Homo sapiens: one gene and its partners. The protein of the gene in region 4 purifies or fractionates together with the protein of the main gene of each other region. This does not show direct contact. Each region holds a gene or a part of one and is shown on either strand. Other genes may lie near its edges. The genes, in order: PIP5K1A, HK1, BMAL1, PER2, CEP78, ZNF618 and WASHC4.

Region 1 (3,500 bases), on a different chromosome or scaffold from region 4:
GGTTTCTCCATGTTGGTCAGGCTGGTCTTGAACTCCTGACCTCAGGTAATCTGCCTGTCTCGGCCTCCCAAAGTGCTGGGATTACAGGCATGAGCCACAGCACCCGGCCATTTAGCTCTTTTTATATGTTGAACATTAAGATAAAAAGATGAGTTTCTATTATAACTGGGGAGGCAGGTACTTAAAAAAAAAAAGAAACTAATAATTTATTTTCCTTTGACCTATTTGTACATGAAAAAAACTAGTTGTAGGCTGGGCATGGTGGCTCATGCCTGTAATCCCAGCACTTTGGGAGGCCGAGGCAGGTGGATAACGAGGTCAGGAGATCGAGATCATCCTGGCTAACACGGTGAAACCCCATCTCTACTAAAAAAAAAATACAAAAAATTAGTCGGGTGTGGTGGCTTGCGCCTGTAGTCCCAGCTACTCAGGAGGCTGAGGCAGGAGAATGGTGTCAACCAGGGAGGCGGAGCTTGCAGTGAGCCAAGATCACGCCACTGCACTCCAGCCTGGGCGACAGAGCGAGACTCCGTCTCAAGAAAAAAAAAACAAAAAACTAGTTGTAATTTATTGCCCATTGAGGACCAAGTAGAAATATAAGTAATGCCTGGCCGAGGTTGGGGATGAGGCAAATGGAGCAAAGCTATCTAATCAAAGTTTCTGCAGTGATTGAAATGTGCTGTATCTGTGCTATCCAATATGGTAGCTAGTAGCCACACTTGAACTGTAAGTAGTAAGACTGAGAAAATGAAGTTTTAAATTTGAGTTAACTTAAATTTAAATAGCCATGTGTACCTAGTGGCTACTGTTATCAGACAGCAAAGATCTAGATGATGCGATACTTTCCCACGGGCTTGGAATCCTGGATTGTAAGAGTGGGGCTCTTGTATTTGTGTTTTGACCAAGTTTGATAATTCTAAGTCTGAATACTGCTCTCAGAAATAATTTGAGTCTTTCATGCTTTCTTCTTCAGTTAGGAGCTCTTTTACCACACTGTTGCCCTTTTTTTTGAGACAGTCTGGCTGTGTTACCCAGGCTGGAATGCAGTGGTGTGATCTTGGCTCACTGCAGCCTCCGCCTCCCAGCTTCAAGCAATTCTCCTGTCTCAGCCTTCTGAGTAGCTGGGACTACAGGTGCACACCACCTCATCCAGCTAATTTTTGTGTTTTTAGTAGAGACGGTTTCACCACATTGGCCAGGCTGGTCTCGAACTCTTGGCCTAAAGTGGTCTGCCCACCTCAGTCTCCCAAAGTGCTTGGATTAGAGGCGTGAGCCTCCGCCCGCGCCCACCCCACCCTGTTGGCCTTGAGACACACTAGTCAGGCCCTTCCTTAGAGGACTGAAGTTTCTGCCGCCAGGCAGTCAGATCAGAATATTGGTTAATTTTAGGGCTGGGCATGGTGGCTCATGCCCGTAATCCCAGAGCTTTGGGAGTTCTGAGGTTAGGAGCTTGAGACCAGCCTGACCAACATAGTGAAACCCCATCTGTACTAAAAATATAAAGAATAAGCAAGGTGTCGTGGTGCATGCCTGTAATCTCAGCTACTCGGGAGGCTGAGGCATGAGAATCGCTTGAACCGGGGAGGCAAAGTTTGCAGTGAGCCGAGATCATGCTGCTGTACTCCATTCCAGCCTGGGTGACAGAGTGAGACTTAGTCTCAAAAAAAAAAAAAAAAAAAAGGAATATTGGTTAATTTTAGTTACATTCGATATCAGATGAAGGAAATGTTTAGAGGGCTCCAGATACACTCTGGGGGCAGAAACCTTAGGAGTGAGAACTAAGAACGTTGTGTCAATACAATGTATCTTCCAAATACAAATATGGAACTCTTGTTTAGGCAGGCCAACAGGAGGGAGCACCTTGCCTAGCTGAGGCTGGCTCAGAGAGTCCCAGCTTTGCTACTCTGTATCCTCACTGTCCTTCCAATCTTTACTAAGCTTAATTGCAGAGTACAGCATAGGGATGGGGAAACTGGATTGTCCCAGTTTTATCTGAACTATTGCTCAGACTAAAGGATGTTTGTTTTAAAGTGTTCCTTCTAGCTTCCCCTTTCTGAATTTTTATTGTTATGATCCTACTTATACTAGGAATTTTCTTCTCATTTCTCTTGTTTCTCAGACAACCTCATCAGCCTTGAAAGGTGCCATCCAGTTAGGCATTACCCACACTGTGGGGAGCCTGAGTACCAAACCAGAGCGTGATGTCCTCATGCAAGATTTCTACGTGGTTGAGAGTATCTTCTTTCCCAGGTACAGAGTTTAATGTTCAGGAGCATGTCCTGGAAATGTGGCCTTTTCAAATCAGCCCAGGGCAGTTTTAGGGGTTCAGGTCGGACAATTTAGACATGTGTCCATTTCTTAACCTGGTTACAATCAGGGCGATGTGGGACTAGAGAGTTCGGAGAGCAGATACTGTCCTCTAGATGCTTCCATTAGCCTCTGTCCTATGGATTGACCCGTAAAAAACAACCTAATGCATTGGATAGGAGGCAGTGTGATTTCTTCTTCTTCTTATGTCTTGCTGTCCATGCTGTGCCATTGTCTCACTAACTCATCTAAGAAGGGCTGTGATTATCTTAGGAGGAATGTATTCCCCCACTCCCCCCACCATGAGGTGACTCTGAGTGTCTTCGCAAGGTAGATTCTCTGGATGATAGGGACTGGCAAGTTATGGCTACCTCTGTTTAACCCCACAGTGAAGGGAGCAACCTGACCCCTGCTCATCACTACAATGACTTTCGTTTCAAGACCTATGCACCTGTTGCCTTCCGCTACTTCCGGGAGCTATTTGGTATCCGGCCCGATGATTACTTGGTAAGCATCTGGATATCAGGACACTGTGACTCCAGTATCAGAGGGATATTCCCAAAGGAAGGCCCCTTTTCTCCACAGTCTCGCTCTGGTTTTTATTTAGAAAAGAATTGCATCTGTAGTTGATTTTTGTGTTGGGCAAGGCCCTGATGTGTCTAAATCTCTTAGTTCTTCTCTGTTTGCCCCAGTATTCCCTCTGCAGTGAGCCGCTGATTGAACTCTGTAGCTCTGGAGCTAGTGGTTCCCTATTCTATGTGTCCAGCGACGATGAGTTCATTATTAAGACAGTCCAACATAAAGAGGCGGAATTTCTGCAGAAGCTGCTTCCAGGATACTACATGGTAAGGGAGAGAGAAGCACTGTCCACCTGTGCTGCTCACTTCTGGGCAAGGCTGGGGAGGCTGTCTTCAGCAGGGTAAAACAGTGTCAGCACTTCTATCTTAAGAGTGTAGTTCAGGCCAGGCACGGTGGCTCATGCCTGTAATCCCAGGACTTTGGGAGGCCGAGGCAAGAGGATCACAAGATCAGGAGATCAAGACCATCCTGGCCAACATGGTGAAACCTCGTCTTTACTAAAAATACAAAAAATTAGCCAGGCGTGGTAGCGGGCGCCTGTAGTCCCAGCTACTCAGGAGGCTGAGACAGGAGAATGGCGTGAATCTGGGAGGCGAAGTTTGCAGTGAGCCGAG
Region 2 (3,500 bases), on a different chromosome or scaffold from region 4:
AGAGGGTGTACTGGCATTAGGCTGAGCTAAGCACAAAACACATATATTCCTTTCACTCTTCTAGTGCCTGTAGGAGGAAAGGGAGGCATATGTGTGCTTGTGAAGGATTCCATTCATCAGAATCCCAGACATCTGCCAGTTCTGCAGCTAGAGGCTGGGTTCTTTGACCTCTAAGTAACTTTAAACACGCATCTCATCTCGCCAGCTTCTTCCACTCGGTTTAGCCATTAGGAGCTTGGAGCAGGGTGAAGGATTGCATAGTGCTCTGTTTGTTTAGAAAGGGAAGATGGGTCCAGGAAGGTCAGAACTTGGCTTCTAAAGAAAGATTAGACTTCCTTTCCTCCAGGCTTGTCAGAATGGTGAGCAAATGCCAGTGGATTTTCTCTGGGCGAGATCCCCATAACGCTAAGTGATTTCCACTAGTAGGTGATCATGAAAAGGGTGTCATTTCTTTCCTCATTGCCTTGAGGCACATCAATAATTCAACTCCATAAAAATATATCCTGGGTTGAAACAGTTCAGGTGTCTGACTTCCCAGTTTGGAACCCCATTATCCAGACGGCATCTGCATAAATTGGTTAATGGGTGCTGTTGAAGAGAGTGTGATTTGTCCAATGGCCGAACTCAGGAGTCCTTGAGTACTTGACCCAGGAAGACAGGGGAGAGTAGGCTTAGCAATTAAAGGGTTGCCCAAGGTACATTCCTTAGAGCCTATGTGTTCCAGCTGCAAAAGCAAGCATTAAAAATAAATAAATAAATAAAAGGCCGATGTAGTGGCTCACACCTGTAATCTCAGCACTTTGGGAGGCTGAGGCGGGTGGATCACCTGAGGTCGGGAGTTCGAGACCAGCCTGACCAACATGGAGAAACCCCGTCTCTACTAAAAATACAAAATTAGCTGGGTGTGGTGGCGCATGCCTGTAATCCCAGCTACTTGGGAGGCTGAGGCCGGAGAATCACTTGAACCTGGAAGGCAGAGGTTGCGGTGAGCCGAGATCACGCCATTGCACTCCAGCCTAGGCAACGAGAGCGAAACTCCGTCTCAAAAAAAAAAAAAAATGCCCATTCATTATTGCTCAGGGGTGAGAGAGGTGATAGTTAGAAAATTGTGAAAAATCTGGCTGGGCACAGTGGCTCATGCCTGTAATCCCAGCACTTTGGGAGGCTGAGGCAGGTGAATCACGAAGTCAGGAGTTCAAGACCAGCCTGACCAATATGGTGAAATCCCGTCTCTACTAAAAATACAAAAATTAGCTGGACGTGGTAGCATGCACCTGAAGTCCCAGCTACTCGGGAGGCTGAGGCAGGAGAATTGCTTGAACCGGGGAGGCGGAGGTTGCATGAGCCAGGATCATGCCACTGCACTCCAGCCTGGGCAACAGAGCGAAACTCTGTCTCAAAAAAAAAAAAAAGAAAATTATGAAAAATCTGTGGGTTCTTGCAGTGGCAAAGAAAAAAAAGAAAAAATTATGAAAAGTCAGCCTGGGCAACAAAATTAAACCTCATCTTAAAAAAAAATTTTTTTTAGCCTGCTTTGGTGGCATGCACACACCTGTAGTCACAGCTACTCAGGAGGCTCATTGAGCCCAAAAGATTGATCCCAAAACAGTGAGCTGTGATGCTATGATTGTGTTACCGTACTCCAGGCTGGATGATAGAGCGAGACTCTGTCTCAAAAAAAAAAAAAAAAAAAGAAGAAAGAAAATTATGAGAAGTGTCTCATAACCTCTCAATTCTGATGTTGTACAAATATTCAGTGAGAGCTTCTTGGTGAATCTTGACTTTATAATCCCTGCCTTTCCTACCTTAGATACTCCTAGGGTTTCTCCCAAGAGAAGCCCCATCACTTTATCTGGTTGGATAGTTTGGGAATGTCATGAAGGAATAAACTGGCAGGCAGGGTGTCTGTGAGGTGCTTTCACATCTGGCCAAGCTGTGCCATGCTCCCACGCTCCTACTGTTCTCCGGAGAAGACATAGGCAGCTTTCCCCTTACAAGACTGATTTGGCATGACTGGGACTGTCTGTGTGTGTCTGCAGTCAGGGATTCCTGGCAGACAGATTTAGCCACTGGAATCACCTCTGAGCATGCCTGAGAAGGTCCAGGGAAGACATGGATAAAGACAGGGAGCTGTATACCTCTGCATCCAGGAATCAGTTGTGGTCAGACTGCTGGCACCTGCTTATGGATTTGTTTTTATTTTTTTATAGAGACAGGGTCTCACCATATTGCCCAGGCTGGTCTTGAACTCCTGGGCTCAGGCAGTCCTCCCGCCTTGGCCTCCCTAAGTATGCTTATTGATTTGAAAACCCTGAAGATCAAATCTGATCACAGGAGCTCAATCATTTCTTTAAAAAATGTTTGATTTTTTTATTATGTGCAGAGGACTGTGCTAGGCTGGGGTGACAACTATAAACAAGGCAGAAACGGTCCCAGTTCTCATGGAGCATAAAATATTTGCTGGCCGGGCGTGGTGGCTCATGCCTATAATCCCAGCACTTTGGGAGGCCAAGGCAGGCTGATCATTTGAGGTCAGGAGGTCGAGACCAGCCTGACCAACATGGTGAAACCCCGTCTCTACTAAAAATACAAAAAAGGTGCCAGATGTGGTGGCTCATGCCTGTAGTCCCAGCTTCTCGGGAGGCTGAGGCAGAAGAATCACTTGAACCTGGGAGGCGGAGGTTGCAGTGAGCTGACACTCCAGTCTGGGTGACAGAACGAGACTCCATCTAAACAAAAATAATAATTAAAAAAAAATGAAGTATTTGCTGTGTTATATGTGCAAAGCATATGGGCTATGAGGGCCCACAGCATGGTGTGGTCATACCTTGGGTGGGAAATCCCTAGGCTAGGAACTGCTTACAGCTAGGCTGCAGATGTTAGCTCCTTAAGTGCTTCAGGAAGCTGCTCCCATCCCCAGTTCTGGGGATGTGTTAGTCTGTTTGGAGTAGCAGGACAGGTGCCCACTGCCTTCTGGCCTAATAAACCTTAACAACGGGATCTTTTGCAACCACTTAATATACACTGGGTTGTGTTCATTGTATTTGATCTTAAAGAAAAATAGGTAAAAATTTTACAGTTTGATTGGTCTTGATTTCTGGAAATAACATTGACTTCTGGTAAACAGTACACATCAGGGATATTATACTTAGAAACTTTGTAAGGTGGAGTCAAAATTAATTGTCACAAAAATGTGTATTTTTTTTTTTTTTTTTTTTTTTTGAGATGGAGTCTTCGCTCTGTTGCCCAGGCTGGAGTGCAGTGGCACGATCTCAGCTCACTGCAAGCTCCGCCTCCTGGGTTCTCGCCATTCTCCTGCCTCAGCCTCCTGAGTAGCTGGGACTACAGGCGCCTGCCACCACTCCCGTCTAATTTTTTGTATTTTTAGGAGAGACGGGGTTTCACTGTATTAGCCAGGATGGTCTCGATCTCCTGATCTTGTGATCCGCCTGCCTCGACCTCCCAAAGTGCTGGGATTACAGGTGTGAGCCACCACACCC
Region 3 (3,500 bases), on a different chromosome or scaffold from region 4:
TAGATGACAACCGAGGTGGGTTTGAAAAGATGAATTAATGTTTGCCAGGTAATGAAGGGAGGAACAAAGAGGAAACAATCTGTGCACAGGTGCAGGGGTGTGGAGCCACATGGCTTGCTTGGTGCTATTGGACAAAACGTGCACGGAGGGGAAGGGCTGAACCATGAAGACCATTTGTTCTGTGGGGACACAGTGAAGAGCTCTGAGTTGGGTGGGGCAGGCTCGGATTGGCATTCTAGGGGAGATCGCAGAGCTGGCAATGTGGGAGGTAGATGGGATGGGAGGAAGCCCAGAAGGAGCCCTGGGCAGTGGCCATTCCTCGGCACACTTGCTCGTGTGATGGCCATGGGTGTGTTTTCCCTCGGCTTCTGTACTGACACCTAGCCAGTGTTTGGTAAGGAGGTGTGCTCCTCAGAATCACCTGGGAGCTTTTCAACATAGTCATGCTCCACCCCCAGAGATTCTAATTTGGTTTTTCCAGACAGCACAGTCCAATAAAAACATAATGCAAACCACAAACATGAGCCACATATATAATTTCATATTTTCTGGTAGCCAGACTTTAAAAAATAAAAATAAATGTAAAATTAACTCCAAAATATTTCAGCATGTAATAATTATAAACAACTAATAAGTTCGTTCACATTCTTTTATTTTTCTATACTGTCTTTGAAATCCTGTGTGTATTTAACACTTACAGCACATTTCAATTCAGAAAAGCCACATTTCAAGTGCTCAGTACCTGCATGCAGCTAGTGGCTAATGCATTGGACAGCACAGATCTAGAATGGGGTCCAGGAATCTGTAGGTTGATCATGCATCCAGGGTATTCTGGCCTACAAGCCAGGTTGAGAACTTAAGGCAGTCCGGCTCCCACCTTGCCTTCCCAATATCCATATCCTACCCATCCTTCAGTGCCAGCCCAAGTTCCTTCTCCTCTGGGAAGCACAGGTTGTCTTTGCCATTTATTTGGCACTAATCATACATCACCCTGTCCTATTATTAATCTTTTCTTGGTGCACCTCCATTTGCCCTTTGTTAGCCATAAGCGTCTATTGGGCAAGAACCCCATACTATATTTCTTTTCATCCCCAGAGTACCTAATCCATTTATTTAGTAGCACACTCTGTGATTTATAAACATTTCCAGACTGACAACACACCTGTCCATGCTGCATCTGTTAAAGCCTAAACTTGGGAGATATTTATCTCATGTCATCATTATAAAACAGTGAGGCAGGCAAGAAAAGGCTTTGCTCAAGGTCACACTCCCCCTCCTGACAGACAACACTGCTCTCAGTTTATCACATTTTGTGTATTGATTTGCAGCTGGACTTCCAGTTAAAACAGATATAACCCCTGGGCCATCTCGATTATGTTCTGGAGCACGACGTTCTTTCTTCTGTAGGATGAAGTGTAACAGGCCTTCAGTAAAGGTTGAAGACAAGGACTTCCCCTCTACCTGCTCAAAGAAAAAAGGTAACAATTTAACAGTCCATTAAAACCCTGTGACAGGTGAAGCATGCTTTCTGCAGCGGAGCTCTCAGCTGGGCGTTGGTTCCATGGTTTCTGGCTGGCCAGAGTGGCAGGTCCCAGGACTGCAGACAGGACCCTGCAGTCCTCCCTATGTGTAGGGCAGTTGGGAGCAGAGGAGAGAGCTGAAAAGCCTGATGGCAGAGATTTGTGGAGAGGCCTCCTCTGTTTAAATTGTGTTTCTTTTAACATGATTGAGGAAGAATACTCTCAGCCACAATCCTAACTGCCTTATGAACAGCCACCAGTCCACCAAAATTACTCTGAGCTCACCAGTGACCTTGATGTTGTTAAATGCGATGAACATTTTTCCTTTGTCTTCCTTCTTGAAGTGTTCTCTTCTCCTGGATTCCATGAAACCACATTCTTCTTCCTCCTCCCCGACCCCCTGCTGCTACAGGCTCTCTTGCTGGCCCCTTTGCTGGCTGCCCCTCTCTGTCCTGGGCTGCATCTCTGTCTGCAGTCTCTCTCTGTTGGTCATGTCATCTACTCCCTCAGCTTTAAATGCCAACAACTTCCACATTCATATTTCCAGCCTAGACTTGTCTTTTGAACTCCAGATTCATAAATATACTGCTTACTAAATCAACCTGCTTTGGATATCTCAGGGGAGTCTCCAACAGGATACGTGCCGAAGTAATCACCTGAGCCTCTCCTCCAGCATAAATGGCACTGCCATTCAGCTGGCTGCTCATGCTAGAAGCCGGGGAGGTGCCCTCACTTCTGCTTCACCACCCCACTCTTCAATCCCGTTAGTTATGAAGTCCTGCCACAATGAGTCCCATCTGCAAAAGTTCTCTGAAATGTTTGTCCCTTTCCATGCTGCCTACTTTCACTCAGCTCCAGGCTGCCCCCAACTCTCACCAGGTCTCATAAAGTGTAGACCCACATGCTCCCCACCCCCAACACAGCAGCCAGGATGATCTTTTTATCAGTCCCCTTTTAAAAACCCTTCAGTGTTCCCTATTGTTCTTGAAGAAAAGCTCAAAATATTTAACGTGACCATGCAGCCCCCGACCCTGCCACTAAGCACATGTGAGCCATGTTGACTTCCTTTGATGCCTCAAGCCCCTTCTGGGCAATGCTTCTGCACATGCTGTCGCTTCCTGGTTGGAATTTCTTCCCTCTCCCCATGAACTCCCTTCACATGGCTCTCTCCAACCTCAGACTGCCTTATGTCTTATAGCACCCTACTGGTTTGCTTTCTAGTGCTTTCTTATACTTGCTGTTATATAGTTATTTGTGCGATTATTTGTTTAAAGTCTGTCTCCCCCACTAGGCTGTAAACTCCACAAGGGCATGTCTGATTTGTTTTTCACTCTATTCCAGTAACCAGCACAGACTCCACGCTTGGCAGACACTCCATAGTGGTTTGCTTGTTGGTGAAGTCTATAGGTGCTCCACATTTAATGTGTCCCAAATCGAACTATCTTTTTTCTCTCTCTCTCTTCTAGTCTGTTTTCTTTCTTCTCTGAGTCAGTGAATGACACCAGCAACCACCCAATCCAGAAAAGTTAGAGTCATCTTCATTTGTTTCTTTCCCTTAAGCCTGATATTCACAGCAAATCCCAACAGTTTGATCTCAGAAATTTCTCCTGCTTTCTTTCTCTGCTCCCTCTCATCTTCACTGCACTGCCATAGTTCAGTCCTCCTAATCTCTTGCTGTATTATAGCCACTGGCCCCTGAATCAGCCTTCCTACTTCTGTTTTCTACTGTCTTCCAGTTCATACGTCACTCTGCTCCTACAGCATCCAAACCACAATTTGATTTTGCTGTTTCTGCACTTAAATACCTGTAGATGCTCTCCATTTCCTGCCTTAAAAAGACAGACCAACATTGGTTAGAAAGTAATCCAAGGCCCTTTTAATCTTCCTCCAACCTGCCTTTCCAATTTGCCCCTCACTCCCAGTACCTCCAATTTCACTTCAACCACACAGAGCTCTTGGCCAGTTCCTATATAGGCTGTG
Region 4 (3,500 bases):
AGGTCAGTGGCTCTCCCGTTCAGATTTCACTAACCAATTTTTCCCCCAAATACTGGGGAACAGCAGAGACATGACAGCTTTTTAGTGTATTTATTTAACAAATAGAACTTTGTATTACCACTTATCATATTAGCATTTCATAAAAGAAAGGACATTTAATACCAGAAGAAAATAAGGAATGTGTCCTGCAATTAAGAGCTTGTAATTTAAGTTGATTCAATTTAGTTTTATGGAAAAACCTGATGTTTTGCCCTGATTTTTCTCACTTCACTGAGGATCAGGGAAAACCGCTCGGTGGACCAGGCAGGCCCTGGGCCAGCATTTGGAAACCCAGGACTGTTGAACGAAGAGGTGTCTTCAAATTTGGAGTTAAAATTTTAACTCCGAGTATTTGTTTTTCTGCATTAGCTGCCCCTGGACTAAGAAATACTTCCGGAATAGATTCACCTTGGAAAAAAACAGGAAAGAACAGAAAATTGAAGTCCAAGCGGGTCAAACCTCGAGACTCATCTGAGAGCACCGGATCTGGGGGGCCCGTGTCCGCCCGGCCCCCGCTGGTGGGCTTGAACGCCACAGCCTGGTCACCCTCAGACACGTCCCAGTCCAGCTGCCCAGCCGTGCCCTTTCCCGCCCCAGTGCCAGCAGCTTATTCACTGCCCGTGTTTCCAGCGCCAGGGACTGTGGCAGCACCCCCGGCACCTCCCCACGCCAGCTTCACAGTGCCTGCTGTGCCCGTGGACCTCCAGCACCAGTTTGCAGTCCAGCCCCCACCTTTCCCTGCCCCTTTGGCGCCTGTCATGGCATTCATGCTACCCAGTTATTCCTTCCCCTCGGGGACCCCAAACCTGCCCCAGGCCTTCTTCCCCAGCCAGCCTCAGTTTCCGAGCCACCCCACACTCACATCCGAGATGGCCTCTGCCTCACAGCCTGAGTTCCCCAGCCGGACCTCGATCCCCAGACAGCCATGTGCTTGTCCAGCCACCCGGGCCACCCCACCATCGGCCATGGGTAGGGCCTCCCCACCGCTCTTTCAGTCCCGCAGCAGCTCGCCCCTGCAGCTCAACCTGCTGCAGCTGGAGGAAGCCCCTGAGGGTGGCACTGGAGCCATGGGGACCACAGGGGCCACAGAGACAGCAGCTGTAGGGGCGGACTGCAAACCTGGCACTTCTCGGGACCAGCAGCCGAAGGCGCCTCTGACCGTAAGGATTTTCTGATGCTCTTTCCCCAAAGCAGGCAGCAAACAGCACACCTGGCAGGCCGGCCGCACATCCTCAGTTCAGACATGGGGGTTACACGATTGAGGTTTCCACCAAACCCTGTAGGTTTTGCCATGAATGTGTGTGCCAGAAATTCATGCTTCCCACTTAATCCTATCAGAGTAGATTATTCGAAGCCTTTTATTGTCGTGGAATCTGAATGAAGGAGGAGAGATTGTGATACAGACTCCAGAAAGCAGCATGTGACTTGACAGTATTTGTGGGCTTCGACTTTTTAAATGACGCTTCAGAGATAAAGCACAGTCAGGTTAAATACCAGAGCTAGGGCTCCTCAGGGTGTGGCGCCGGAGCCTGGCTCAGGTGGCCCCGGTGAAGGCGGAGAAGGAGGGGGACACAGCCCTAAAACCAGCGTGACCTCAGTTTCCATCCTCCGCAGGCGTAGGGACACTGTGTGAGATTCTTAACCAGTTAATGAAACGGTAGTTGTATTTGCAGTTAAACGCTTGTGTTTCTGAACGAGCTCAAGTGTGTGGGAACGCCAGCAGCAGTGCAGTCCGTAGGCCTCAGGCGATTCCCTGCCTTGGCCAGAGGACCTAGGGCTCCCGGGTGAGGAAGTGCAAGCATGTAGATCTGTGGAGCTTCTCCCAGTCCTCCTGCCACCTCCGGGCTCCTGCTTCTGGAGTCCTGGGCCTGCAGTCTGGGTTTCCAAGGAGAGGAGGGTCAGGGATGCTCCCCAGGCCAGGCCCCGCCCTCAATCCCAAGGCAGCCCCCACACCGGGTGCTGTGAGAGGCGTTTTCCCCATCCATGTCTGCTGCATGTGAGGAGGGGGCTGTGGCCAAGGAGCAGCCTGAGGCTTTCCCCCCTGGAGCCCAGGTATTGCCGTCTTCCATGTGACTCTCCGAAAATTAAATGTAACTAGACGGCATCCATAGAGCATCAGTGGAATTTGCACCGTAGGCCTGGTGGTGATGCGTGGTCTGCTCGTTAGGCCGTCCCTGGCCGTGAACCTTGCAGCCGCTCCACAGCACCCCTCCACCCTCACCCCACTCATGCCCCCCACCCCCACCCCGCTGCATATGCTGTGTCCTGACTGAGCCCCTGAACAGCAGTATCTGCTTCCTGTCCCTAAAGCGTGATGAACCCTCAGACACACAGAACAGTGACGCCCTTTCCACGTCAAGCGGCCTCCTAAACCTCCTGCTGAATGAGGACCTCTGCTCAGCCTCGGGCTCTGCTGCTTCGGAGTCTCTGGGCTCCGGCTCACTGGGCTGCGACGCCTCCCCGAGTGGGGCAGGTATGTTGGCCCTGGCGGGGTGTTAGGCACTTGGGAGGTTCCTGCAGGATGCACTGCTCCAGAGTCACAGGCCGGCCTCTGTGCTCAGAACAGGGATCACCGGCACTCCCCAAGCAGCTGTCAGAGCCCATGCAGACACCCACACAGACACACTCTCCCTGTTCAGCATGGCTGGCCCTAGCTAGTCAGAATTCCACATCCTCCCTGTTTGCTTCTGATTTCAGTGCCTACAGGCCTCACACCCTGGCTCCTTGTGGGACCAGCCCTCTGACTCCCCAGATAGTGGTTTGCCTTCCTGCTTTAGTTCCACTTGTGTGAACTGAGGGTATGGAGCACCTGCAAGCCTCTACCCGCTGGGATCTTTCACATGTGATCTGGAATCTCAGGCACCAGAAATGTACACACTCTCCACAAAATTGAAGCTCCCCTACTTCTCTGGAGTGAGCTTTCACCTCGCCTCCCTTCGCAGGCGTGCTGCACAGGTGAGGCTGGCTAGGGAGCGCTCCAGGCCAGCTGCCTCCCCTTGTGGGAAACTGCAGTGCCCTGTGGTCCACATGAGTGGAGATGGTGAGAGCTTGGGAGAGAAGGTCAAGGCTTCTAACACGCAGCTCCACCTGAGCTGCTCAGGGCTTCACAGGAAAGAATCGCCTGCATGGCACTAGCAGAGATCCTGTTTCCTAATTACCCAGAGCATTCAAGAAGTGGGAGAGAAGGGGAACATGCACCGGCATAGATACCCAATACCTAAGAAGGCACTGGGCTCTCTCAAATCATTCTGACTTTGAGGAAGCACATTATGCAAGGTTTAATTTCATATGTCAATGTTTTGACGCACCACGTTTTTTGTTTTTAAAGGCAGTAGTGACACAAGTCATACCAGCAAATATTTTGGAAGCATTGACTCCTCAGAGAATAATCACAAAGCAAAAATGAACACTGGTATGGAAGAAAGTGAGCATTTCATTAAGTGCGTCCTGCAGGATCCCAT
Region 5 (3,500 bases), on a different chromosome or scaffold from region 4:
ATCAGCTAATGGCATAAATTTTACATTCTCCTGAATACATAAATTTGGTATAATCTAGTTCTACTGATATTTTCTTTTTTTTTTTAAAGAGTCTTTAACTTTTGTAGAACACATTATCTTTAGTCATAAGTAGCCTTTTTTTACTGATAAGAATGAGTGACAGTGGAATAAGTTAAGCCAAATCTAATGTGAAAGTGACCTTTTCTTGTAAGTAACTTTGAATTTTGAAACAGTAAAACCATGAAGACTACTACAGAGAAAAAAATTAATGTTTTTATGTTTATAATCTGCCAGTTTCCCAGAAAAAGGTTTGTGGTGACTTTAGTTCATACCCTGTACATTAAGATCACCAAACAATTAACACCAGATAATCTTTTATTTGGATGCTACTTTAAATTTTTGAAGGATATCACTTGACTTAATATCACTGAACTGTACACTTAAAAATGGCTAAGATATAAAACAATTTAACATAAAATATAAAACATTAGAAATTCTATAATTTTAGTAGCTAGTGGTATATAATTGGACATCATTGAATGAGAATAAAAAACAAAAATCTTTTTTCTTAGCATGATTAAAGAAATTGGAAATGTGACTGAAGTTTACAAGCTCACTGAGCTATTTTAAGAGTAACTTTATTTCTTGGGCTTTTTTTGTATTTGCCTCAGTAATTTGGAGACACAGAGGTAAGCCAAATCAGTGTCTGGCTTTATATTTAATAGTTAGGTGTCAGTGAGTATAGGGGTTATATAATTTATGTAAATTATGTCACATTCATATTGCAATTACGTGTGCAGACAGAAGATAGGAAACTTTATAATTTTTTTCATCTAACAAGATAAGTAAATTAGTTTGGTTTTAATTAAAATTTATATTTGCGGCCGGGCACGGTGGCTCACGCCTGTAATCCCAGCACTTTGGGAGGCCGAGGCGGGTGGATTGCCTGAGCTCAGGAGTTGGAGACCAGCCTGGGCAACACAGTAAAACCCTGTCTCTACTAAAATACAAAAAATTAGCCGGGCGTGGCGGCGTGCACCTGTAATCCAAGCTCCTCGAAAGGCTAAGGCAGAAGAATTGCTTGGACCTGGGAGGCGGAGGTTGCAGTGAGCTAAGATTGTGCCACTGCACTCCAGCCTGGGCGACAGAGCGAGACTCTTGTCTCCAAAGAAAAAAAAAATTTATATTTGCATTACTTTCTACACATACTACAAACAATACACAGTAACTTTTTTTTAGGATAATTAAAAACAGCACACAATGAACTGAGCTCCTATATATTTATAAGACGTGTATAAATTTGTCCAGAGAAATTGCACAGCACAATGTGGTAATTATCAATAAGTTACACCACGGGAAATATTTGTCCTGTATTACCAAATACATGTTCTTGTAGATGCTGTCCTAAAGCTGCTAAAGTAGATCTTACGTAGTAAAATAGATTGGAAGGATAAATATAACCGTTTTAATAAAGTTATATTATTTGTTCTCAGTGATATCAGAAACAATTATATATTTAAGTGTGAATTTTATTAATATTAATAGGTAGGTCTAGCTTTTACTACCAAATATTTCTTTAAAAAAACTTGACTCTTTAAACTGAAATGTAGGATAAGACTTTATACTTCGTTCTATTATCCAGTAGGTTTCATTTGTTTTCTTTGTGTTCTGTAAAAGCAAATGAACACTGAAGGTGGACAGACTTATAGGCGGCAACATTGGCTCACCTACTACCCAGCTACCTTCAGTCTTACAACTTGGATAGTTTTTACATGATAAAATTAATCCAGCTACCTTTAGTCTTACAACTTGAATACCTTTTACATGATAAAATTAATCTCAAATTGAAATTTTTTTCCAATTCAGAAGGTTCTGTTTGGTAGGAGTCATGGGTGTATCTATGTTCTGTCCTTGAGATTCAGGAATGCCAAAAATATTCTGAGATTTAATAACTTAAAATTTCTGCATAATGCATAATGAAATGTATCACGTATAATCTTTCATTCTTTGGGTTACATGTTTTATTTACCTTTGCGTGCTCTGCATGTCTCATATATTCAACTTATATTTTAGTTAAAGTGATAACTTGTTACTCTAGACAACTTATATTTTTATATATTTATTACTTATATTTAAGTATATTAAAAATATATTTATTCTTATATTTATTACTGGCCTGTGTAAAAAGGTATTTACAAATTGATCCTGATTTAATGGACTTGGTGTCATTGTCAGGTGCCCATTTGTATTCTTTTAAGAGTATGCACATGTGCCTATTCATCTGTAGACCTTTAGTGCATCTTGATTCTTTCTTTTTAACACTTCTCAAGTAGGATTGGCTACAAAGAAACCTGTAAGTAGTGGCAGAAAACACTCCCTTGGTAAAGAATATTATGCGCCCGCACCTCTTCCACCTGGTGTGTCTGGTTTCTTGCCGTGGCGTACTGCAGAACGTGCAAAAAGACACAGGTAGGGTATTTTTATTTCCTATCTTTTAGGATAAAAATGGGATTCAAAATTCTTTATTTTGGAGCTTCTATTATGTGAGAGTTCTCTGCTTATGTCTGTAGGGTAAAAATGACTCATGTGGCTTCTGCCTCATGAATCCTTTAAGGAAGAAAAACAAAAAATAATCCTAAGTAGGGTTTCAAGTTATTAAGTGTCACAGCAAGCTGTATCCCTGTGGGAGTCCAGAGGAAACTGAAATTATCTCCAATTGTGCAGGTGAGAAAAGGTTTCATTTAAAGTATGTGCAGTTAAACCAAGTCCTATAGGGCAGAAATAGGAATTTGGATATTTAAGACTGGGGAAAGGGCATTGTAAAGCATAGGAAATTGTTCAATGCAAAATGATAGGAAGTGTTGATTAGACTTAATCTAACTCAGCCAACTGGCCTAACTCATTTTAGTGAATCAAACCAGATATAACTAGTTTTAGCCAGTTACCTAGGTGATAGCTATTCATAGTAATTTTTGTCAGAAAAGTCTTTTAAAAATGTTGTACTATAATTTTATGCTTAATAAATGAATTAGATTACTATAAATTATTTTCGAATGACTGACTTTTAGTATTCAAGAAATTGGAGATTAACAATTGCTTAAGAAAACAAAGAGGATTGAATTTAAATAGGACTGGAAATAGGTGCTATGTAAAATATCTGTTCAATTGCTCAGATTAAATTGAATATGTATAATCTTTGTTAGGCAACTGATGACTATACTTATTTCACAACTGGTAATGTGAATTATTATTGCATAAACTATAGTGCTGAGGCCCCAGTCTTTACACTTCCATTTAATAACTTCACAGTTTCATATCTTCTTGAGATACTTACTAATTTCAAGTCCCATCTTGGTCACAAGGAGTTGTGAATTAGAGAACAATTAATATCACCAGTTAAAGAAGTTAGATTAGAAATCTGAACCATCCTAAACATAAGAAGTACCTGCATCTTCAGAGTCTTATCCCAAAGCCGTTCTGCTAAATTGTTCAATTTTCTC
Region 6 (3,500 bases), on a different chromosome or scaffold from region 4:
TTTTCTTATATCCGAGCTTCAGTTTCCATGTCTTACAGTGAGGGGTTTGATAATTTGGTACTTTGTGTCACACATGGCTTTGGTTTTGTTTTGTTCATTTCATAAAATTTCTAGTAAATATACTTAAAAAATGCAAACTTTGCGAAAGTGAGAGAGTATGAGGAGTTTTTGGCCACTTGGGGGGTGTAGCTGGTACTCCCTCCCTTCCCTCCATATCAGCTAGAACTCTGTGGTTGTGTGCAGGGAGTAGGTGTGGGGTTCCCAGCCAGGCTTGGGATCCAGTGCTTCCCATTTCCAGAGAGTTTGCTCCATACCACACACTGTGCTCAGCTCTTCCTGGATTAGCTCTTGTTAGTCTTACCAGCAATAGTGTAATGTCCATATGATTACCTTAGTTTTTCTAAATGATGAAAATGAGGCTTTGCAAGCATAGATAGTTGTCTAAGGAGGAGCCAGGATTTTAACCCAGGCCTGAGTCCCAATGGCCACATTCTGCTGTTACCCACCACACTCTAGTTCTCATCTCGTTCCTCAACAGGCCTCTTACCCTTCCAGGTAACACACTGTCCCCTTTGTGCCCACAGCTGACAATGAAAACAACATTGCCTCCAACCAGTCCCGATCGCCACCTGCTGTTGTAGAAGAGAAGTGGAAACCTCAGGCCCAGAGGAACAGTGCCAATAACAGTAGGTCTCCCCAAGCAGGGCTGGACCTGAGGGTCCCCTTATGCTCCAGTTGTTCCTCTCTGCCCCCCATTCCCACCATTTGTGCTTCCTGTGATGTTGTAAGATGATGCATGATAGTTTCCAAAGCACTTTTACACCTAAGACCTTATTTGCAGGAGTTCTTAACTCAGGGGATGGGCAGAAGGAGGCCCAGGGAGAGGAGGTGACTTTTTTTGTGGTCAGAAAGCACCAATTTGTGGCAGAATCAGAACTAGAACCCACCTCTCCACAATTTCTGCTGGTTGCTCTTTCCTGACATGATGATCCCATGTATCTTATTTCCTGAAGATTCCCATATTAGAGGAGATTCCTGTATTGAGGAAGAAATTAGACTAGTTGGCTTCAAAGATCTAGGGGAATGACATAGACCGCAATTATGTTGCATACATACCACTACATTCTATTCCCATGCTCATGGCAGGCCTTACTAATCAATCATAGAACTTTATCCCTGTGAGACCATCATATATTAAAGGCAGCCAGCACCACCCATGTGTGTGCAAGAGGAAATATATTTGCCATTCCCAATACTAGATGTTTAGAGTGTTAGGCTACTGCCACTCCAAGCAGCCTTGAATGCCAGAATTAATCCCATCTGTCTTTGTGTCCTCTGCCAGCCACTACCAGTGGTTTAACACCCAACAGCATGATCCCCGAAAAGGAGCGGCAGAACATCGCAGAGCGGCTGTTGAGGGTCATGTGTGCCGACCTGGGTGCACTGAGCGTGGTCAGCGGGAAGGAGTTCCTGAAGTTGGCCCAGACCTTAGTAGACAGTGGTGCCCGCTATGGGGCCTTCTCGGTCACTGAAATCCTGGGCAACTTCAACACGCTGGCGCTGAAGCACCTGCCACGCATGTACAACCAGGTGAAGGTGAAAGTGACCTGTGCCTTGGGCAGCAATGCCTGCCTAGGCATCGGTGTCACCTGCCACTCCCAGAGTGTTGGCCCTGACTCCTGCTACATCCTCACAGCCTACCAGGCCGAGGGCAACCACATCAAGAGCTATGTGCTTGGTGTGAAGGGTGCGGACATTCGCGACAGCGGTGACCTTGTGCACCACTGGGTGCAGAACGTGCTGTCGGAGTTCGTGATGTCGGAGATCAGGACAGTGTACGTGACGGATTGCCGGGTGAGCACGTCCGCCTTCTCCAAGGCCGGCATGTGCCTTCGCTGCTCAGCCTGTGCCTTGAACTCGGTGGTGCAGAGCGTGCTGAGCAAGCGGACACTGCAGGCCCGCAGCATGCACGAGGTCATCGAGCTGCTCAACGTGTGCGAGGACCTGGCGGGCTCCACGGGCCTGGCCAAGGAGACCTTCGGGTCGCTGGAGGAGACGTCTCCACCACCCTGCTGGAACTCGGTGACGGACTCACTGTTGCTGGTGCATGAGCGCTATGAGCAGATCTGCGAGTTCTACAGCCGGGCCAAGAAGATGAACCTCATCCAGAGCCTCAACAAGCACCTGCTCAGCAACCTGGCGGCCATCCTGACGCCGGTGAAGCAGGCAGTCATCGAGCTGAGCAACGAGAGCCAGCCCACCCTGCAGCTGGTGCTGCCCACCTACGTCAGGCTGGAGAAGCTGTTCACGGCCAAGGCCAACGACGCAGGCACTGTCAGCAAGCTCTGCCACCTCTTCCTGGAGGCGCTCAAGGAGAACTTCAAGGTGCACCCGGCCCACAAGGTGGCCATGATCCTGGACCCGCAGCAGAAGCTGCGGCCTGTGCCACCCTACCAGCACGAGGAGATCATCGGCAAGGTCTGTGAGCTCATCAACGAGGTGAAGGAGTCCTGGGCCGAGGAGGCCGACTTCGAGCCCGCTGCCAAGAAGCCCCGCTCTGCTGCCGTCGAGAACCCCGCAGCTCAGGAAGATGATCGGCTAGGCAAAAATGAAGTGTACGATTACCTGCAGGAGCCCCTCTTCCAGGCTACCCCTGATCTCTTCCAGTACTGGTCGTGCGTTACCCAAAAGCACACAAAACTCGCCAAGCTCGCCTTCTGGCTCCTGGCGGTTCCGGCCGTGGGCGCCAGAAGCGGGTGTGTAAATATGTGTGAACAAGCGCTTCTAATCAAACGGAGGCGGCTGCTCAGTCCAGAAGATATGAATAAACTCATGTTTCTGAAATCCAACATGCTTTAAGACTTGACTTCGGGGGAAAAAAAAAGAAAAAGAGAAGATAACATTAGAAAAAAACCACACAACACTGTCACAAAGAAAAGGAATTTAAGTTCTAAACACTGTGGACCTCATTATAAATGCCCCCTGGAAACTTAAGTGCTTTTTTTATATGTGTGTGTGTGCGTGTATGTACACAGCCACACGTGTGTGCACGTGTCTGAACACGTGCTGTGGTTGTGGGGGTGTGGGGGGGTCTCTGTGCTCATCTCCATGGCCAGAGAAACTTTGCACACACGCACACACACACACACACACACACACACACACACGACCCTGGTGCGTGTACATACGCCTGTGCTTGGACGGGTGTGCATTGAACTGGGCGTGTCAGGAAAGCTGAGCGATTGGGAAAGAGGGAGATGTTTCACCTCCTTTTCTCAGTAAGGGGGCTTTAGAAGACTCCGCTTTCAGGTGTGCAGATTGGCAGAAAGCTGATGTTGTGAAATGTTCAGGCAGCTGAGATCTGAAGTGACTTGACGCTCTCTGTCCTTCACCCCGGTCCTCCTTTTCCCTCTTTGACCCTCTTCCAGCCCTCCTACCCTCCTGATCCCATTGTGCACCCCCCCACACACTCGGCTGCTCTGCTGTGGACTCTCCACACT
Region 7 (3,500 bases), on a different chromosome or scaffold from region 4:
TAAGTTTTTATTATAACTTTTATCATATTCTAATCTAAAAATTTGTTTACACATTTTTTCTCCCAGAGGATATTACATGAGCTGGGACTATTTATATTTATCTTTGTATTCCTAAACATAGTTCAGTGCCTAGCATGTTCTCAATAAATATCAGATATATAAATGAATAAATGAAAGGATATACAAAATAAATGAAAGGATATACAAACTGATCCTAGAAATAATCCCTACATGCAGCAAGATAAAGGGAAAACTAGAATCCTCAAATTTTAGAACTGAATAAATGTTTTTTGGTAAATATTATCTGGATCATCTTAAAGAGAACTCCACGCAAATTATCTGATAACATAAATTATTACATTCATGAGACAATGCCATACTGTACATTAACTAATTGAATTAGCAAAGCTAAATGTTTTCCTATACTCCTCATTTTAAGAACAAAAAACACATTTGTAATCATGTAAATTTAACCATTTTTCCTAAGATACTAAATTTTATATACTATAACCAGGCTTAAAATCCTTAAATGTGACTTTGAACTTCTTAAAATTCTACAGAAGTCACTTCACTATTCTAGTGTTTCTGAAAAGCTGTATATAAATATAAATATATATGTATATCTCGAATGCTCAACAGAAGGCTGAATATAAGCAGGACCCCGGTGGTAAATTCCTTTATAAAGCAATTTAGCAGCACCTAATTTTTTACTGTTGTCAAGTATAAGATTTTATATGGCAAATAATTTCTTAAAAAATAAGCACATACTAACTAAAGCAAAAAGAAAAAAGACTTCCTTAAAAAGTACTGTTACAGCCAACAGTCACAGTATGCTAAAAAAAACATTTTATACTATACCTGTTCCAAAGTCTGACTGGGAAGATGTGCCTCTGTCATAACCAGTCCATAACGCTGAGTAGCTAAGTTTCTCATCTCACTATAAGTGGCCCAGTCATGAAGGGCTACAGTTGTTAGATTGTAGAAAGTCTTGTCTAGGTAGTGAGTTACGTAAGCTACCAAAAAAAAAAAATTCAACTTGTGAAACAGTAGAAAAGGAAAAGAAATGAAACCTAAAAGGAAAAAACAACAACTTGTCCTTGAACATCAGATTTGTTCCTTTAAAATAAGGTATTAATAAAAATGAGAAAAGAAACAAAATGTAATTAAAGAATAACAACACAAAATTTAAATATACCCTCAAAGTTTTGTTTAACAGTAGGGTAAAAAAAAAAAAAAAAGAGAATATGACTCTAAGAAGGAAAGCAAAACACTCACCCCGAATGTCAATGAAACGATTGAAAAACCGAATTGGATTCAGAGAGAAAAAAAGAGCCAGGTCTTTCATGCCAACTTTGAAAGGGTTTCGGTCATCCAGCTTTAAATGAGTATGCACAGAAAGTCGCAGATCTTTCTCTATTTCTTTGCATAATTTGTCCAGCAAATGCTATTCACAAAAGATTTGATACTTTAATTTTTCAAAATGATATTGCAATTGTATTGTTTCCCTACATGTCTATGCTCCATTTTAAACCAATAGTTTTTTGGTCAGAAGCAGTTACATAAATTCTAAGTCTTTATTTTCACCAATACCTTAAGGTTAATACTCTTGAAAAGAAAATCTAAAACTAATGATTGATGGTACCATCATAAGGAACATGAATATGCAACTTAAAGCATAAAATTTATGGAAACCAGCAACAAAGGAGGAAAGGGCATGAGAACAGGCAAGAGAGAAAAGAAAAAAGCTTCCTTGTAATAACTGTTAAAAAAAAAATCACAAAATTCATTGTGCTAAAGGTAATAAAATTAATCATCTTTTCTGGTCTACCAAGGAGTTCTAAATTACTATCCAGGCATGTATTTTATTTCCTAAATAAGAATACGTAATACAAGAAATTATAAAAAGTTTTTCACAATTTCATCAAACCCAGGTAGGATTATATTGTGAAATTTCCTCATTTTTAATTCCTCCCTCCAAATAAAAATATCACTAAATGGAAATTTAATTTTAAAGATATCAGTGTTTATAATACATATTTCCTTAACAAAAGGAGGGGCATACATATTGGATTCAAATTACTTTTGTTACACACTAAATCTTTTAAATATATAATTTCCTTCTCTCAGGAGCTCTGCAAATAAAATTCAGTAAAATATTAATGGTTAAGTTGCTTTAACTGGACCATTAGCAGCTTTCAACATTCAAAACCATTTCACATTTGCATTCTTCTAATAAACAACTTTAAATTAAAATATCTATTTACAAAAGTAAATTTAAAATCTCCTAATTCCTAGTGTGATTTCTAAATAAATGAATTACAGACCAATTAGCACAACAGTGATATTGTAACTAAAAATAGTTCTTTGTTCTACCCAGCAATTTATAAATAATTTTAACTCAGTGAGTCTGCTTCAATCGAACATTTTTTTTCCAAACACTACATTCCAAACATGTTTTAAGCTTTTCAATCTCAAATATGATGTTACCTCATTTAAAATTTCCATAATTTCCTTGTCATAGCAATCCAGAAGTATCTCATAGGACTCTAAATGCCTTGCATGCATCATAGCAGGTACACAGTCGCGCAAAGCACTGAACATGTACTAAGAAGAAAATTAAAATGTACATGAATTTAGAAAAACCAGGTCTCTAATCTAAACAATACTGCAAAAGTTAATTATCTTGAAAGACAAAACCTCGATCTGAAGGAAAAATGATTTTCCACAACTGTCTTAACTTTCCTAAAGAAAAAGAACCTAAAGCATATACTTTAACTAAATATACCCAAAAAAAATCACATTCGCTAGTCCTTTCCTATCTTGTGCATTTAAACACACTTATTTCCATAAAGAAAAATATGAATATTTCTTAAAAATATTTTTTCTTTTGCATTGTAATTTGCTGATGAGTAAATGTCAGATTACTATGACATAAACTAAAATTAAGTGAAATGAAAATGATTAGGAACATGAAGGAAGAAATTAAATAAATTAACTTCGTTAACAGTAACATAAAATTTAACTACAGACTATAAACACTTTATGAATATGCAGTTTACAAAACAGTCAATTTTAAAAGTTTATTAAATCAAATGATCTATTTTAAACTAAAACGGTTTACACAGTGACTTTTAAAATGATAGAATTATTCTTTATATTGTTCTTTACTTACATGTAATCTGGCTGCATCAACAGCATTTTCATATACATCATCTAAATAAATTGGGAAGACAGCTCGATGCCAGTATAAAAAACAACAGTCACATTGTGTTTGGACTCTACAATGTAAAGTAGTAATCAGTCACACCAAAACTGAAGAATCCCAAAACAATATGAAAGGAATGACATCTACTACAGAAGGAAGAGTTCCATCTTACACAGTTCGCATTCCCTACATCACTTAACCCAACATAGTATAGAAAAGTCACAAAAGAAATACTATCAAAATGAAACAAAGGTAACAAACACTCCAATGCCTGACATTGTCAGAATTCTGCACA

Evidence for each region.
Region 1: the proteins of PER2 (region 4) and PIP5K1A purify together in Homo sapiens (affinity purification with mass spectrometry; one large-scale study listed by BioGRID and IntAct). This does not show direct contact.
Region 2: the proteins of PER2 (region 4) and HK1 purify together in Homo sapiens (affinity purification with western blotting, with the first as the bait; one study listed by BioGRID). This does not show direct contact.
Region 3: the proteins of PER2 (region 4) and BMAL1 purify together in Homo sapiens (affinity purification with western blotting, with the first as the bait; one study listed by BioGRID). This does not show direct contact.
Region 5: the proteins of PER2 (region 4) and CEP78 purify together in Homo sapiens (affinity purification with mass spectrometry; one large-scale study listed by BioGRID and IntAct). This does not show direct contact.
Region 6: the proteins of PER2 (region 4) and ZNF618 purify together in Homo sapiens (affinity purification with mass spectrometry; one large-scale study listed by BioGRID and IntAct). This does not show direct contact.
Region 7: the proteins of PER2 (region 4) and WASHC4 purify together in Homo sapiens (affinity purification with mass spectrometry; one large-scale study listed by BioGRID and IntAct). This does not show direct contact.

What each region holds. Positions count from the first base shown.
Region 1 is NC_000001.11:151,229,552-151,233,051, forward strand, and holds part of PIP5K1A (phosphatidylinositol 4-phosphate 5-kinase type-1 alpha), read left to right. Parts: intron 1-2,119; coding exon 2,120-2,250; intron 2,251-2,696; coding exon 2,697-2,814; intron 2,815-2,999; coding exon 3,000-3,152; intron 3,153-3,500. UniProt on the Homo sapiens protein: Catalyzes the phosphorylation of phosphatidylinositol 4-phosphate (PtdIns(4)P/PI4P) to form phosphatidylinositol 4,5-bisphosphate (PtdIns(4,5)P2/PIP2), a lipid second messenger that regulates several cellular processes such as signal transduction, vesicle trafficking, actin cytoskeleton dynamics, cell adhesion, and cell motility.
Region 2 is NC_000010.11:69,321,847-69,325,346, forward strand, and holds part of HK1 (hexokinase-1), read left to right. Parts: intron 1-3,500. UniProt on the Homo sapiens protein: Catalyzes the phosphorylation of various hexoses, such as D-glucose, D-glucosamine, D-fructose, D-mannose and 2-deoxy-D-glucose, to hexose 6-phosphate (D-glucose 6-phosphate, D-glucosamine 6-phosphate, D-fructose 6-phosphate, D-mannose 6-phosphate and 2-deoxy-D-glucose 6-phosphate, respectively).
Region 3 is NC_000011.10:13,368,290-13,371,789, forward strand, and holds part of BMAL1 (basic helix-loop-helix ARNT-like protein 1), read left to right. Parts: intron 1-1,328; coding exon 1,329-1,478; intron 1,479-3,500. UniProt on the Homo sapiens protein: Transcriptional activator which forms a core component of the circadian clock.
Region 4 is NC_000002.12:238,250,611-238,254,110, reverse strand, and holds part of PER2 (period circadian protein homolog 2), read left to right. Parts: intron 1-408; coding exon 409-1,199; intron 1,200-2,349; coding exon 2,350-2,512; intron 2,513-3,367; coding exon 3,368-3,500. UniProt on the Homo sapiens protein: Transcriptional repressor which forms a core component of the circadian clock.
Region 5 is NC_000009.12:78,249,575-78,253,074, forward strand, and holds part of CEP78 (centrosomal protein of 78 kDa), read left to right. Parts: intron 1-671; coding exon of another isoform or gene 672-739; exon of another isoform or gene 740-931; intron 932-2,330; coding exon of another isoform or gene 2,331-2,333; coding exon 2,334-2,469; intron 2,470-3,500. UniProt on the Homo sapiens protein: Centriole wall protein that localizes to mature centrioles and regulates centriole and cilia biogenesis. Involved in centrosome duplication: required for efficient PLK4 centrosomal localization and PLK4-induced overduplication of centrioles.
Region 6 is NC_000009.12:114,047,309-114,050,808, forward strand, and holds part of ZNF618 (zinc finger protein 618), read left to right. Parts: intron 1-584; coding exon 585-686; intron 687-1,342; coding exon 1,343-2,859; 3' UTR 2,860-3,500. UniProt on the Homo sapiens protein: Regulates UHRF2 function as a specific 5-hydroxymethylcytosine (5hmC) reader by regulating its chromatin localization.
Region 7 is NC_000012.12:105,142,231-105,145,730, reverse strand, and holds part of WASHC4 (WASH complex subunit 4), read right to left. Parts: intron 3,279-3,500; coding exon 3,173-3,278; intron 2,605-3,172; coding exon 2,488-2,604; intron 1,445-2,487; coding exon 1,276-1,444; intron 1,014-1,275; coding exon 859-1,013; intron 1-858. UniProt on the Homo sapiens protein: Acts as a component of the WASH core complex that functions as a nucleation-promoting factor (NPF) at the surface of endosomes, where it recruits and activates the Arp2/3 complex to induce actin polymerization, playing a key role in the fission of tubules that serve as transport intermediates during endosome sorting.